Linked DNA regions of Homo sapiens: region 2 is linked to region 1. The links come from fine-mapping of genetic effects on gene expression. A gene starts in region 1. The other region holds a variant in brackets. All regions are shown on one strand. Distances are from middle to middle.

The links.
Region 2: its variant is fine-mapped to the expression of NUDCD1 in whole blood (INTERVAL, PIP above 0.99).

Annotation. Positions count from the first base shown.
Region 1 is chr8:109,328,540-109,337,230 of GRCh38, forward strand. It overlaps NUDCD1 (NudC domain containing 1), which reads right to left and starts at 5,548. Exons shown (of 10, transcript NM_032869.4): 1 at 5,354-5,548. The coding sequence starts at 5,471. It overlaps ENY2 (ENY2 transcription and export complex 2 subunit), which reads left to right and starts at 5,808. Exons shown (of 5, transcript NM_020189.6): 1 at 5,808-5,935; 2 at 7,589-7,665. The coding sequence starts at 5,930. RefSeq lists enhancers at 5,240-5,289, 5,420-5,469, 5,652-6,574, 5,840-6,089.
Region 2 is chr8:109,238,253-109,247,060 of GRCh38, forward strand. NUDCD1 (NudC domain containing 1) reads right to left here. Exons shown (of 10, transcript NM_032869.4): 9 at 7,070-7,229; 10 at 2,667-5,049. The coding sequence ends at 4,757. Among named protein-coding and RNA genes, the nearest start is that of NUDCD1, 91 kb to the right of the region's middle. The variant CAATA/C (reference allele first, on the strand shown) is at 4,427.

The sequences.
Region 1 (8,691 bases):
GGGTTGAAGAGAAATCCTGGGCACTCACATAAGGCTAGGAACCATAACTGCTCCCAATAAGCAGAATGGAGAAAACCCTTAATTTGTGGGATACTGGGTAGTGTACACAGGAAAGTCTTGCCTCGGTAGTGGGAAATAACCCTAGACTGAGCACTGCTCCTGATCGGACTAACAAATCATAAAAGCAAGAACCAATGGAATTAATCTGTTTCCAAGTAACTCAACTATATCCCGGAAAAAAAACTCAAGAACATTATAAAAATACAAAAATAACCTGCACCTAACAAGGTAAAATTCACAATGTCTGGCATCCAATCAAAGATTACCACATATGCAAAGAGGAAAGAAAACAAAATCCATAATGAAGAGAATTACCAATCAATAGAAGCCAATATAAAACTGACATGGAAGCTACAATTCACAGAACAAGATGTAAAAACAATTATTGCTACATGTACTCCATGTATGTTCAACATAAGTAAGTAGAAGCAAGAAAGATGCAAAAGATTTAAATCAAACTTCTAGATGTGAATATTACAATGTCCAAGATGAAAAATACACCAGATGGGATTAACAAGAGACTAATATTACAAAAAAAAAAAGTAAACGGAACTAAAGGCATGAAAATGGAAACTATTGGCAATAAAACAGAAAAAAGTATGAAGAAAAAATGAAACGGGCATTCATGAGCTGAGACCAACTTCTGTGATCTAAAAATGTGTAACTGGAGTCTTCAAAGGAGAAAAGGAGGGGAAAAAGTTGGAAGAAATAATAGCCAAAATATTGCCATTGATCTTGATAAAAACTATATGTCCGCAGTTTATAGCCCAACAAACCCCAAACATAAGAATCATAAAGAAAACCACAGCTGGCCACAATATTATCAAACTGCTCAAAACCAATGTAAAAGAGAAAAATCTTAAAACAGAAGAAAAAAGGCATGTTATGTATAGAGCAACAAAGATAGGATAATGTGAGATTTCTCATCAGAAACAATATAAGCAAGACTGAGGCTATAACTTTAAAGCATTGAAAGAAAAAACTGTCAACCTAGAATGCAGAAGGAGCAGAGAGATGGTTACAGAAGGGTACAAGGAAACTTTGGGAATGATAGCTAAGTTTAGTATCTTGATTGTGGTGATGATTTCACGGGTGTATACATATATCACAACTTCTTAAGTTGTACATTTTAAATTTGTAGTTTATTGTCAATTATGTCTTCATAAAGCTGTTTAATTTGTGAGACAAATTTATGTCCTACTTACCAGGCATGCTCCAACCCTGGAGATAAAGCATTGAAAACGATGGACATGGGACCCTTCAATACAAAATCAATAATCTTAGCAAAGAAAACATACTGGATGCTACGAAGTATGATAAAGTCTATGAAGTACTGGTTACTATGGCAACGCATAATACAGATTCTATAGTGTAGATTCTGACTAGTCAAGAAAGGAATCCCTGAGGAAGTAACATGTAAGCCAACATGAAAGAATGAAGTATGAATTAGCTAGGTGAAATATAGCTGGGAAACATATAAAAACATATAAAAAGACTTGTACTAAATGAAGATTCTAGGAAAAGGATATTTATAAATGCCTAGGAAGGAAATTGCCGGATCAAAAGACAATTACAATTTGATTAAAAATAAGTTTTTTGTTTCGTTCTTTGGAATAGAAAAAGACAAAGTGACATTTACTGCTTATGTAGCAAAGGAAATTTTGGTACAACTTAATAACATTATTTAAGACAAGAGAATAAGCCTCATTGCATCAAGTTCTTGACACCAGAGACCACATCATCTTTACATCTTAAATGCAGTGTTTCAGGTAGCCAAGGTGCCCATCAAAGGTTTGTGGAACTAAAGTGAACTCCTTCAGTTAGAATAAAAGAAATCAAATTACCAGAAGCGCCTCAATTATGCTTCACTATCTCTAGAAATGATAGTTTTTAAACAAAATAATCTTTTTCATCATCCTCAAGTAATTCCTAATGAAAAACTCATCATGTGAACTATTGCAAAAGCCTCCTATCTGCTGTGTGCAGTCATCTCATCTTCCAAACTCAACCTCCACAGAGTCTGAGGTAAGCTTTTCAACTCCCGTATCTGTTCACGTCCCTTGTACTTAAAATGTGGTACACATACGCCATGGAATACTATGCAGCCATAAAAAGGAACACAATCATATCCTTCAAAGGGACATGGAAGGAGCTGGAAGCCACTGTCCTCAACAAACCAACGAAGGAACAGAACACAAAACACCACATGTTCTCACTTGTAAGTGGGAGCTGAATAATGAGATCACATGGACACAGGGAGGGGAACAACACACACTGTGGTCTGTCAGAGAATGGGGTAGGGGGAGGGAGAGCATTAGGAAAAATTGCTAATGCATGCTGGGCTTAATACCTAGGTGATGGGTTGACGGGTGCAGCAAACCACCATGGCACACGTTTACCTATGTACCAAACCTGCACATCCTGCACATGTACCCCGGAACTTCAAAGAAAAAAAAAAATCGGTCGGAGCAGTGGCTCAGGCCTGTTAATCCCAGCACTTTGGGAGGCCGAGGCAGGTGGATCGCGAGGTCAGGAGTTCAAGACCAGCTTGGCCAAGATAGTAAAACTCCGTCTCTAATACAAAAATTAGCTGGGCTTGGTGGCGGGCACTTGTAATCCCAGCTACTCCAGAGGCTGGGGCAGAGAACTGCTTGAACCCGGGAGGCGGAAGTTGCAGTGAGCTGAGATCGCGCCACTGCACTCCAGCCTCAACGACAGAGACTCCGTCTCAAAAAACAAAACAAAAACAAAAAGAAACAAACAAAAATTAGCTGGGCATGGTGGCGGGCGCCTGTAATCCCAACTACTCGGGAGGCTGAGGCAGGAGAATCGCCTGAACCCGGAAGGCAGAGGTTGCAATGAGACGAGATCACACTACTACAGTCCAGCCTCCGCAATAGAGCAAGACTCAGACTCAAAAAAAAAAAAAAAAAAAAAAATCTTCAAATGGCACCTGATATCCTGCAGCTGTACATCCCAAACACAGAATCTAAGATTAACGCTGATGAAATGAGTACGGAACAAGGACAACTTTGTGAATTTTTTCTAAAGTTAAAGTATTCAATGGATTGTTTATTGTGAGATTTTGCTTCCTGCTTTTTTGGTGTTAAAATATCCTTTTGTTTATGAAAAGATAGATGAGTAAATGATAGTTTTTAAGAAACATCTCCACCTAGTAAACAGAAAAGTTGGCAGAACTACAGCAGCTGAGTTTTATTTTATATTGTAATGGCTCAATACAAAAATGTCAGGGAAACACTGAATGACCGGAAATCCAAGAAATCCAAAAGGCAAACAAGGCCCTCACTGATTTATTTCCTCTCACTTTCCCAGACGTTTTGCTCCAGCAATATAAGAGTGCAAGGATGTCCAGCATACAACCTACTAATTATTTCCCTTTCCTCATGCTTTCCCATGAATGGAATGACCTCAACAATTTCTTCTCTTCTTCATATACTCATTTTATTGAATACATCCTATGTGCCAAGCACTAGATATAGGGTAGTGAACAAAAGAAAAACATCACTGTTTTCAAGGAACTCATAGTCTAGTGGAGGAAACAGACAACAAATCAAGATAGAATTTAAAAGGCCGATAAGTACGTCTTATGGAGAATGCAATGACGAAGCCCAAAAGTGAAGGCAGGAAGGCTAGTCAGGAGGCTACTAGAGTTCAGGTAAGAGATAACTCTGATTTGGATTAGGGTGGAGGCCTAGAGATATCAAAATGTGGAGCTGACCGGACTTGCTACCAAGCAGACAGTGGCTAAAAGAAATAAACCCCAAATGACTCTGGCACAAGTGTCTCTTGGTACCAACCTGGGCTAGTCTAGTCGGCTAAAGGATAAGAGACCACACGGAGAAAAGTCAAGAGGAGACCATGTGAAAGAATCTTAAACAAGCTTATAGTCTGAGACCCTACCCCCACCCTCCAAACATATGAGGAAGTCCAGCCAAATGAGCAGAGCTTCCCAGCAGATCCATTACTGAACAAGGATGCATCAATGAGCCCAACTAGGACTAGAAGAACCACTCAGCTGACCCGTAGACTTGTGAGCAATAATAACTGCTTCTTGTTTTGAGACACTGAATTTTGGCTTCACTTTCTAATGCACTAACTAAACATGGTGATACCATCTACTGACATGGGGTGACTGGAAGAAACACGGTGGCAAAGAGGAAAAGGAAAAAAATAAAAAGAAAAATCAAGCTTATCCTCTCTCATCCTAGTCAACTCTTAACCTACCCTTCAAAGCTCAACTTAGATATTAACTCCTCCAAGACGCCTTCCCAGATCCCCAGACTAGTTTAGGAAAGATATTCAAGTACTACCATTGTATTTTGTACATATCCCTATCACTGCCTTCCCATATTGTTTTACAATTATCTGTTTACAATTTTCTTCCTAACTAGCTAATAGTCCTCTTTTGTTACGGAAGGTGTCTTGTTCATTTTGATATTATCAGGACGTAACACAAAACAGGTACTCGGTAAATATTTCTGAATTTAATAAATCAATTAGCATAAACTTATTTTATACTTTAATGTCTGTTATTATAATTAACTGTAGATCACTATTTCTCAAAGTGTGATCTCTGAAAACATGCATCAGAATCAGCAGGGGTGTGAATTTTAAAATGCAGATCTCTGGGCTCTATCATAACGAAAATGCCGTTAAGTTGTAAAAACAAGAGTAAGGATATTCTACCAGCTACAGATAAAGCAAGGAGTAGCAGTGTGGGAGTAAATCCACTTTTCCTCACTATCTTCTAGAGATGTTCTCTACCAGAGTTCTTAATGTGCCAGGAACTGAGTAATTAAAAATGCTATGACTGGAATGTAGTTTCTCTTCTAAGAAACGGCTCTCGGTCAGAGGAAACAGGAACTGGGGGTCCTCCAAGGAGGTGTGGTTTCTCAACGCACACGTTCACAAGCGATGCTCCAGGAGGAAGGAATGTTCTCAGCGTCCCCCGAAACAGAAGCCAGGCTGTGGACACACAGCAGCCAGAGCCCCAGGCACTACCCGCACGCCAGCCCTCAGACCTCAGACCTCAGAGGCTGGGCTGCTGACGGAGGGGGCCCAGGGTCCCGTTACCGAAGAGCGCGCGAAGGCGGCTCCCACCGGGTTCTGGGATGGGCATCATTCCCCAGAAGCAGCGGCCTCCGTGAGTCCACGCAAGCCGCCACGGTGGCTTCGCTTGCCAGTCAGAAAGAAAGAAATTGCGGGAAGGGTCAGGCCGGAGGCAGCCGAAAGGGGAAAGGAACGGAGTACGAAGGGCGCCGCCGCTTCCCACCTGCGTCAAGCTCCAGCTGGTAACAAGGCAGCGGCTCAAGAGAGAGCTTGTAACCCTCGAAGCGGGGATCCAACAGAGGTCTCTTCACCCGTAGGGAGCAATTAGCCGCCACCTCCATCGCTTTCCAGGGCCGCAGCGTGAGAATTAATAAAGCCCTTGTTGAAAGGTCCGCGCTTCACGCCTCGCACAGAGACTGGGAAGCGGCGTGGTTCCCATCCCAGAAAACACTGCGGTGCGAACTGCCTTCTGGGAAATGTAGTGTCCGTGAAAAAGTTGAGACTGTTGCATGCTGGGCTATGTAGTTCTCCTGGTACTTAACGCGCGCGCGACGGCAAGGTCTGAACTCTGTTACCCAGAGGCCCTAGCAACCAGGAGGCGGCCCGCGCTGGTTAAATTCTCACATTATAGGCAGGGTGGCGAGACCCCGCCCCGGAAATGCGTGTTCTAGCTTTCTGTGTGCTTAGGTGCCCGAGCTACTGAGGGTCTAAGTCCGGGCAGCCGAAGAGTGTGGTAGGTAACGGTCCTCAGCGCAAGGGTCATTTCGTCGCTGGGAAGGGACGGCCCTCGCCCGCGGTGATGGTGGTGAGCTATGCCCGTGGTCCTCAGGGCCGGGACCCGGGCCCAGCCCAGGCTCCTTTCGATGTACTGTCTTTCGTTAGCGTCCCCGACCCGCGCTCGCGGGCCTGTAGGGCTCTCCGACAGGGCGTGCTACCGGAGTTGGCCTGAAACCAGTCCTCGCTTTGTTTTCTGGCTCCTCCTCTCCCGCCTCTCCCGCTGTCTCCGCCCTGTTCTATTTTCCCTAAGAATGTCTGAACTGGGAGGGATACCCTAGCGCCCTTGTTTTACCAGTGAGAAAACTGAGGCCTTTAAGAATTAAGTGACTTGTCCAAGGTCACTATCCGTATTTTAGGAGCCAAGACGAGATCAAGTTCAATATTCCAGGAGTGGTACTGACTAGACCTTGTAGTTATTTTGAAAATGTTAGCCTCCAATTACAAAAGCAAGCATTTCCTAGTTCTCACTCAACTTCTCCTTTTCCCTGTTCCTCTCAAAAAAGAAAAAAAAAATCAACTCTGGTAACTCATTGCCAGTCTGAATTTTCAATAGGCCAGATGGAAGACAACAAAAGTAATCTCAAGTTAGTGACAGATTAGGTGGGAAAACGTTAGTTTACGCCAAGTTTTATTTAATTTAAACTTTTAAGTGGCTTTAACGCTTTCAAAACCTAACTTTCCTCTTCTTTCAACATCATTTTGGTTTGGGTTGTCTGTTTTTACTGACAATTGAGGACTTTGTAAGTTAGGAATTAGTTTGAGATTTGTTTTCTTCTTATCCCACCAGCAGTGTGTGTGTAAACACACACATCCACACACTTAGGTTTAGCAGTTGTAATTGTGGGTTCATCCTAGTGAAGAGTAAAGCAAAACACTTAGAGCCTTATCTAGTAATTTTATTTTTTTTGATTAATTAATTTTTTTTTTTTTTTTTGAGACAGAGTCTTGCCCTGTCACCCAGGCTGGAGTGCAGCAGCGCAATGTCGGCTCACTGCAACCTCTGTCTCCTGGGTTCAAGCGATTCTCCTGCCTCAGCCTCCTGAGTAGCTGGGATTACAGACACCTGCCACCAAGCCCAGCTTATTTTTCTATTTTTAGTAGAGACGGGGTTTCACCATCTTGGTCAGGCTGGTCTTGAACTCCTGACCTCGTGATCCACCTGCCTGGGCCTCCCAAAGTGCTGGGATTACAGGTGTGACCCACTGTGCCCGGCCTGGTAATTTTATTTTTTTACTAATAGTATTTAATCTTTTTTTGATGTTTAGTATGTATGACTTCTCCCAATTTTTGGATGCAGTCTCTGCAGAAGTGATCGGCAGTTATGTTCAGTTTTGGAGCTCCTAGGGTCAAAGTACTTGAGTTCAAATTTTGCCTTTCCACTTTCTATCTCTGTGCCTCAGTTTCCTCATCAGTAAAATACAGATTATTTTATTAATATAAATATGTAACAATACGTTCTGGGAATTAAATGTGATGTTTAAAAAAAAGCAAACCCACACTGCATTAGCCCAGTGCCAAGCACATAAGTGTTTAATAAAGAGTAATGATATTATTAACACACTTGAAATGTATCACCCCTTCAGTTAATAGAATGGTAAACATGTTAGGATGCCTGCCTAGAGGATTTAGCAGAAAATGCTTTGTAAATGTTCTATATCTGAAAGTACATGTTGATGTCCAGGTTAGCAAGATGAACAAAGATGCGCAGATGAGAGCAGCGATTAACCAAAAGTTGATAGAAACTGGAGAAAGAGAACGGTAAGTAATAGATTGTGTTAATAAATTACATTTCACCGCCTTTAATAGTTAGCTTGTAAGAATCTAAACAAGAAATGAAACATGTCACTGGAAAGAATTACAATTGAGATTATAAAAGTTTCTATTCCGAACATCTGGAAAAAATAATTTAGGTTTGTTAAGTATTGCAGGACTTGGAGGGAAGTGGTGATGTAGAAAGATGAGCAAGATATGGCTCTTAAAGAGTAATTTGATGGAGAAGAAAAAGTACATACCTGAATTACAACTGGAGACATAATGTTACCTGGGTTTTAACAGGGAGACAATGTTGTGGAACCAGCTTCATTTACCAAGCTCTCAACCTTGGAGCAGCAAGTGCTGTTTCCACTCTCTAAAACATTCTTCCTTCTCTTCCTTTTTAGCTAATTCTAGCTCAACTATCAGGTCTAATTTATATATTGTCTCTTCAAGGAATGTTTTTAAGTCCCAAATACCTTGTTCCATCATAGCATTTAATCAACATTGTGTTCTAACAATCTACTTGGCTAGTTTGTATCCTCCAGTATAATCTAAGTTCTTTAACACCAAAAACAACATTGTATACCCAGCATCTAATGCTTTGTTTGGTTCATAATTGGCCACGTAAATATTTGCAGAATCAACAGGTTTAGAAGTACAAAGAAGGGGCTGAGGAATCAAGAAAGGCTCCCAGAGGCAGGGTTATAAAGTGAGTAAGACAAATATGTATAAGGAAGAGGCAAATATGTATAAGGAAGAGGGGGAATCTTTCAACTCAACCCGGGCATTCAGGTGATCATGTAAGATCTCACACAATAAGAAAAAGAGGTGCATCTGTTGCTGACTTTATTTTTGGATGATGGGAGTCATTTAAAGTTTTAAGAAAGGAAATGACTAGATCACATTTACACTTTAGGAATCTTACTCTGTTGGTGTGGAGCTTGGACTTGAAGGGGACAAGATAGATGGCAGAAAAATGAGGTAGAAGATTATATAGGGTTGAAAATGGAAAACTCCAAAAATTGGAAG
Region 2 (8,808 bases), 90 kb before region 1:
TGAAGCATACAGTATGTACTCTGGCTTCTTTCACTCAGCATAATTACTTTGCAATTCATCTATGTTGGGTATATTGATACTTTTTATTGCTGAGTAATAATCCATTGCATGGACATAGCACAATGTATTTAGCCCTTCATCTGTAGATGGATATTTGACTTGTTCTGAGGTTTGATTATTATGAATGCTGTTGCTCTGTTCAAATCTTTGAATAGACATATACTTTCATTTTTCTTAGGTAAAAGAATGGGTAAGTGGAATAGCTGGGTCACATGGAAGATCCATGTTTAACATTTTAGAAAACCACTAAACTCTTTTCAAAGGCGATTCTACCATTTTACATTCCAAACAGCAGTGTTTGAGAGCTCCATTTGTTTCATACCTTTGCCAGCATCTGGAATGGTCAGTCTTCAATTAAAGGATTTCAATAGCTATGTAGTGATACCGCATTGTGCTTTCAATCTGCTCATTCCTAGTGACCAATAACGTTGAGTGCCTTTTCACATGCTTACTTGCCATTCATCTTGTATGATGTATCTGTTCAAAATTTTGGCCCAATAAAAAATTTACATATTTGATTATTTTATTATTGAGTTCTGAGGGTTCTTTATACATTCTGGACACTAGTGCTTTATTAAATAGTGATTTGTAAATGTTTTCTCCAAATCTGTGGCTTTTCATTGTCACAACACTGCCTAAGAACGTAATTTCTTAATTTTGATGAAGTATGATTTGTCACTTTTCTTGTTTGGTGTCATATGCAAGAAATCTTTGCCTAACCCAGCCTTACAAAATTTTTCCTTTATGTTATCTGCTAGAAGTTGCACAGTTTCAGGTTTTACATTTAGGTCCATGATCCATTTTAAGTAAATTCTGATATAAGGCTGTGTTAGTTTCCTATGGCCGCTGTAATGAATTTACCACAAATTCGGTGGTAATGCATTCTGTCACAGATCTGAGGCCAGAAGACCAAAATCAAGGTGTCAGCAGGGCCATTCCCCCTCCAGAGGCTCTGAGGGAGAATCTATTCCTTGCTTCTTCCAGCTTCTGGTGGCTGCCAGCATGCTCTAGCACTCCTCGGCTTGTGGCCTTTTAAACACCATCTTCACATAAGCTTCTCCTCTTTGTGTTTGTAATTGCACTCTGCCTCTCTCTTGTAAGGGACACTGCAATTAGATTTAGGGTCCACCCCAGATAATCCAGGATAATTTTTCCATGTAAAGATCCTCATTGTAATCACTTCTGCAAAGACTCTTTATCTTCATAAGGTTATATTTTCATGTTCCAGGGATTGGAACCTGATATCTTCAGGTGGCCACTATTTAGGCTACTACAAAGGCAAAAATGAATACCCAATTGTTTTTGCGCCACTTGTTAAAAATATATCTTTTCTCCATCAAATTATCTCTGCATTTTGAATTGCCTCTTCATTGAAATATCTCTGACTAAAATCAACTGACCATATGTGTCTGAGTCTCCATCTGGACTCTTTATTCTGATCTATGGATCTATTTGTTGAAATTGGTGCCAATACCACATTTTCTTGATTACTGTAGCTTTACTGACCATCTTTATTTTCTTTTCTGTGAATTAACTGTTCATATCTTTTGTCTGCTTTCCTTTTGTATAACTTGTTTGCTTTTTTATTAAATGATAGTTCTTATGTTCTAGATTTTAACATTCATACATTACGCATAAGTCACATATCTTTCCTCAGTCTGTTGCTTTATCTTATACCAAAAGTAGGTCATAAAGAAATTTTACATTTTGTAATGATCAAATTCATCAATCCTTTCGCTTATATTTTTGCCTTCTGGATCTTAAGAAGCCTTCTCAACCTTGAGAATATAGATATTTTCTTCTTGTAAGTATAGGACGATTAAATGTGTGTCTATTTTGTTTACTAATGCAATGATGCTACTCTTTTTACTGCTTCATGATGTATCTTGATATCTAGTTGGGTACCTTTTACCTTGGCTCTTTTTGTGCATTTATTCTTTCTTACCAATTCTAGAAGGCCTTACTTCTCTTTGCTTTATTACTTCTATACTTCCATCATTGGGCTTTTGTTTTTTACCACTCAACTATTATTACTTGTTCAGTAAGACACACTTACTACTAAGAAGTAATTAGAATATTCTTCCAGTAATAATCAGTGATAAGTATCAGTTTTGCCTTCTTATATGACTTGCCACACATAAACTTACCATCTGTTCTTTTCTATAGTTAATAACACAAAATATTAGAAATTCCTGTGTAATGATGGTTTAACTTGTTCTGTACAGTCATTTCCCTTTTATGTAGAAATTTGATGAGTATACTTTATTTAAGAGTATTTTTTTTAACATTGTTAACCATTCCTAATTTCTTGACACTCTGATTCTTTTTTCTAACTCTTCCCATTGGCAACTCCTCTACCTGACTCTTGTGGGTAGTCCCCAAGGTTCTAGCCCTGGTCAGACTTCCTTAGCAGGAAAGCAACCACTCTATGCCACCCTCTCCTCTTTTTTTCCCTAAAAAGAAATTTTATCTGAAAATCATTAAAATGTAGATTGTCTCTTTATCCTTAGTAATATATTATCCTTAATACTGAAAAAATCATGCTAAGGTACATAGTTGATGCTTAAATGTGTTAAAAGAGTGAATATTGTTAATGACTCTTAATATGCAAAACACATAAAATACTACTTTATTACTATCATAAATATTTTATAAATTCCTATTTAAAACATGATAAAAATCAACAAAAATACAAGGTACTATATTCTTAGCACTTGTAGTATATATCTCAATGTTCTAAGTATATGTACCTTAGAACATTGTTTAAATGTTTATGGAATCCCTGAAGCATTTCAGGAAAATAGCTTGAAATCACGGCTCTAGACCTATTCATCTTTTAACGTAGGTCAACATGCGACAATATTTAGGATTAATTATCCTGAGAGCTTTCAATTCAACATTAATCATGCAAAAAAATCACATGCACAAAGAATATTGATTACTAAAATTGGCAATATATACATAGTCATGGTTAATTAAGCACCACATTTTTATTATACATTTTTCTTATGTTCCCTAAGAGGATATTATCTTTGGGGAAAATTTTAGAGAAAATTTAGATCTACTTTCCCATCATAAAGATTTTTAATAATTCACTATTTAAATGGTCTTTTGTTTCATGAAGTTTTACAACAATACTAAAAAGTTCTGGAAATATCACTGTTTTGGTTTTTGGTTACTATACAGTTTTCCATCTCTATGATCTCGTGATGTTTGGTATCTAGTCTCTCTTTCCTAATACGAATAGAGTACTATTAGGACTCCAATTGTCAATACCAGTCCTCAGGACCTTTCCTAACTTTCTACCTAGCACCTCAATACTCTCTAGGAAACTGCAATCTGACAAAGGGTTTAGAACATGTATGCAATCCTCATCTTTTTTCCTCCTCTCTGTCATTCATTCGTTCATTAAAATTTAGTTGAGTCAAATACTTGCCCAGACAGGCAAAAGATATGTTAGGAACAAAGCTTTTCTATCTTATATTTCTTATCTTAATCTTCTGCCTCTTAAATGAAGGTCTTAACTTCCTTATTAAAATATAAAATCCAACTTGAGGTTTATATAAGATACATATCTTGAAATGGTATAAAAAGTAATAAAAATTTCCAGGTACATACATACTAAAACAAACCTGGAAAGGTAAGTTTGAAAAAACAAAATTTGTGGCAAGAAACTATAACATATAAACAGGATTATTTTGTTGAAGTTGTTAGAAAAATAAAGAGAGCCACAAGGATAAATTATAATTTGTCCTTGTGTGGTAAGATTGTTCCATCAATGGCCCCCAATGAGTCATACCATCCGCTGTCAGCTTGTGTAGTCCCCTCATTCTGACTCTAGACTTGGCCATGTGATTTGCTTTGTCCAATGGAACATTAGTAAATATGATAGATGTACAGGATCGATAAGCTCTTGCATATTGGAGCTTGCTCTCTTAAGATGTTTTCTCTACTATGGAAAGAAGATTCGTCTAGTCTACTGGAGGCTGAGAGGCCCTGTACAGCAGAGACAGCCAACTCACTGAATCGTGAAAAATAATAAAAGTCCTTGTTTTAAACCACTGAGTTTTGGTGTGGTTTGTTATGCAGTGATGGATAATGTGAAATCTTATCTCTCTTTGTCTATGTCTGTGGCAGAGCAACTGGCTAAAAGTTACATAAAGCTATACTTAATTTGAAAATAATAATAAAGGTCTCTCAGTAAACTTAAAAAATATTAGACCTGCTGTTCTCTAGCATTTCCTCCTCCATGTAGACTCAGTTATTCAATCCACTTAAATACATATGTACAATACTCAACATTTAACTATTATCCTGTACATCTTATAGGTACAGCCTGTAGCAACTAATCAACGAACAGAGTACA[CAATA/C]AATATTTTTATTTTTAAACACTGAATTGTACATCTTTCATATAAAACATGAGATTCTAGCCTGTTTTAAAAAATAAGTATACTTGCTAGTACTATCTTCACTCTTTTTTTTTTTCAGAAGCCAATGTTCTCTAAATCTGCAGCTTCATTCCACAGCTTTACAGAATCATAATCTCTTGAATATATTTCCAATGTTATTAAAAAATAAAAAATCATACAAGATATATTTAGCACATTAAAACTTAAGAGGTTACAGTATAACTGTCCAGACCTCCAGGTACCACTGAATACTTTTCCAGTACAAAGAGGCCAATATGTTAGAATAATTAATTCTCTGTATTTACTTTTATTAAAAAGAGGTTTTTGGTAGTAAGAACAAATAATCTCTCATTTGTTGCCTGAAATCCTAAAATAGGATCATTGGTTTCTAGGCTTGCTACTTGCTGCTTAGCAACCTGTCCTACTTGCCTGCCTTCCTTTCTGTTGTAAAGTACAGTGGACATGGGAGCAGGCTGACGATAGATGAATACTCGACGAAGGCACTCACAAAGGGCTGCATACGAGTAATTTGGAGCACAGGCAAAAAATTTTTTGTCTCTCTTTGATGCTTGGACATAGCCTGCCAAGAATATGAGACAAACAAAAGAAAAACTATATATTAAACAGAAGGGGAAAAATGATGATTTAACATTTAATATTTTGCAATGTTTATTACAAATTAAAATGCCCAAGTAAAATATATACCATAAGGTATATAATTCTGAATCATTAACGATTAGCCACAATCAGTCTCTCCCATCTGGTACAAAAATACGACTTTAATTCCTAAGGAACAAAACAGATATGGCTTTCTCGCTTCAAAAAAAGCGTAATATAGCTTCATTTAATTTCCACGAATAATTCGAACACTAAAATTCTAAAATCTAAAACACTCAATACATGACAAAATATCTTTAAGTGCCAATTTAATATTTAGCTTCGTGAGTTACGGATAGGGCATCACAGAACCATTTTTTTCCTCTTAAATAAATTGGAAAATGTGTATAGGATACCATCATAAAGTTATTTTAGTTTTCTGTTCATAATGTATCCCTGAATGTACTAGTATTCGTGATGCATTCTCTTATTATCCCTAAAATGTTAGTGATATTTTTATACATCAATACCAACACTGTAACTGGATTTTTTTGTACTTTTAGCCCCCACAAGTAGAATGTTGATCACTATAACTTCAAAAATAATTTCAAGTCTCTAAACTGAAAAAAATCCTTATCTTAATTCATGTACATGTTTAAAAAGTATCTTTTTGGATTAAAACAACATTTATATTCCAAAATATAAATTATGATTTTTAGATAGTGACATGGTTAGCAAATGTTAGGTATTTATGATCATGTAAAATAAGAATATAACATTAATTAAAATTGAGATCTCATCAAACAATGAATAAGCAAAGGAACTACTGAGCACATGCAGATCAATACTGTTTTTAAAAATATTAAGCAGGTTTGAAGCAGGAAAAGTGAAGATTTAGATACCTATTTAAATAGTTTAAAGTAGCTATCCAGGCTAACCTTGACAGAATAATGTATATAATATTTCAAGAGTACATATCTAATATATGTTGATTTAACTTAGAATTAAGCATAGAATTCCCCTATAATAGGGGATTTGGGGATACAAATAGAACATCTGAGCATCTAAAGATGATATGATAGAGCTTTCTTCTGACCAAAGTATAGATAATTAAAAAATAGCATTATAGTAGGGAGGCTAAAAATTATATGGTTAAATTAGTTAACCAAACTTTGTACTTCAGGTCATAAAAATCCATTTGGAGTCTGAACCAGTTTAGCAGCCTACATTATTAACTATAAGGGATAATTAATAAATTTCTTCTACAATTAGGGTTGTGCACATATAGCCATCAAAATACGTAACTTCACTTCTTGCTGCCTGTTTAAAATAACCTTTCAATAAAGCAACAACTGTGGCTAATTCACATAAAAAATTTCTGTCACACAATACTAATGCATTTTGACAGAAAATCAATGATTGCATACGTCTATAATTAAGTAGTTTAAACATTGTCAAGCCCTAATTTTAAAACTGATTTTTTTCCTTTTATCCTACCAAATAAATTTAATTTCTGCTTATCACCGCTTTCCATAAGTATTTTCATTATAATGGCTCTCTTTTGTACTTAATTTTGACAAAAGATGTCTCCTAATGTGCATTACACCTTAGGGGAATTCTATGATGTTTCTGAAGATTACTCTGAAGAAACTTGAACACCAGTTCCATGTAGGGTATTATCAAGCTCCTTGCTCAGACTCCAGTATTATATGGCTTACAGAATTAGAAAAAGCAAATGACTTATTAGAATAATTCAAGTGGTTAGATAACCACTTTCATTTCTATTCTGTGTTGATCTTCTGTACAAGCATAAAAACAGATTAGTCTAAATGTTCCAACAGTGCTAACACTCACAACTAGTACAAGCAAACAAATCATAGCGCAAATCAATCTAAATGTAATCAGGACAGCTCAAATTAAAAAGAAAAAAAAGAAATGAACTTTAAATGAATGATGACTGTATTTCTGATTTCATGGAAAATGTCAAAGAGTTTGCTTTATACCTAAAGCATTGAAAGTTGCGATGTGCTCCCACATATCATCTTGTTTGCTGGAGTGTGGTTGCCAGAGTAGGGCATCAACATCATGGCGCAAACAGAAGCAGGGCATTTCTTTAGGATCCACTATGACAGAGAAAAGGTACTGGTTGCTTCCAAGATTCACCTAAAAAGTGATTTAAAAAAAAATTTACTCAACAACAAATTAATAATAGCAACAATAACAATGGCAGAAGCTGACAGCCAGCATTAAGTGTCAGCAACTGTTTTATACTTTTTATATACTTAATCTGATTGACTCCTCATAATATCCCTGAGATAAATGTGCTACTGTTATGTTCATTTCAAAGCTGAGGAAAGTGATGCACAAGGCATTTAGGTAACTTGTCGATGGTCAGCCTGGCCATAAGTCATGGAGCTGAAATTTGGACCCAGAGTCTATGTTCTTAATCACCACGTGATATACCACCTCTTAATTGTTAGTAAATAGTTTAAAACACGATATAAAGCAGGGGTCCCCAGTCACTGAGCCGCAGACTGGTACCAGTCAGTGGCCTTTTAGGAACTGGGCCGCACAGCAAGAGATGAGCAGCAGGCAAGGGAGCATTACTGCCTGAGCTCCACCTCCTGTCAGATCAGCAGTGGAATTAGATTCTCACAGGAGGGTGAACACTATTGTGAAATGCACATGCAAGGGATCTAGGCTGTCTGCCTTATGAGAATCTAACTAATACCTGATGATCTGAGGTGGAACAGTTTCATCCTGAAACCATCCACCAAGCCCCCACAGGCCCATGGAAAAACTGTCTTCCACAAAACTGGTCCCTGGTGCCAAAAAGGTTGGGGACTGCTGATATAAAGCACCAATTTTATAAGCAGACTATTTTTAGGCCATAGAATACACACATGAAGTTTACTAATGCTAACTTGTAATAATTACCAAGAACAATGACACTACCAGAATTTATGAGCACACTCTCATAACATTTATAACCAGGCATGTTATAAATACTAATCTTAACAACTCGCAAGGCTATTATTATCTTCATTTAAGGGATGAAAGAACAGGCTTGGAGAGTTTGAGTAACTTGTTCTAGGCTAAAGAGAAATATCACAATGCTGGAATTCACACTCAGATGTTTAAAACTATTTACTTAAACGTACTGCTTAATTAAAGTATCAATGTCAATATGTCAATAATGTCAACATTTGTTATTGTAACACATCAATAATTGTTACTGCAATATTGATGCCTAAAGAAATGCATTTTAATACAAAATCATCAAATTGAAACTCACTGAATTTCATCTACAGCAATACTTTTTCTAAATGAAGACATGTTGTAAGGATAGTCTTCTTTATGAGAAATGTTATTATCAGAGTTGAAAATACGAAACAGAATACCAACAAAAATCACATCAAATGTAGAAAATATAAAATATGCACAGTACTTATAAATATGTAATTGATTCTAGGAGTTTGCAAGCAGACTGGAGAACCGTAAAAGATTGGGTTAAAGTAAGAAGTGGAGACCTGACCTGAATTCAACAGGGAAAGCTGTGAAGTGGCTCTCCAGCAAGGGGACCTATTATTGGTAAAGCTGTGACAACACAGGCTATTGGTCACAGGAGAATACAGTGTCAGAGCAACCCATCTTCTGCTCCCCAGCAATGCCAGGGAAATAGGGCTTTTTCGTAGAGCCAGTGCTTGCTCTCTACAAAATAAGGGGAGAAGGCCAGCACACA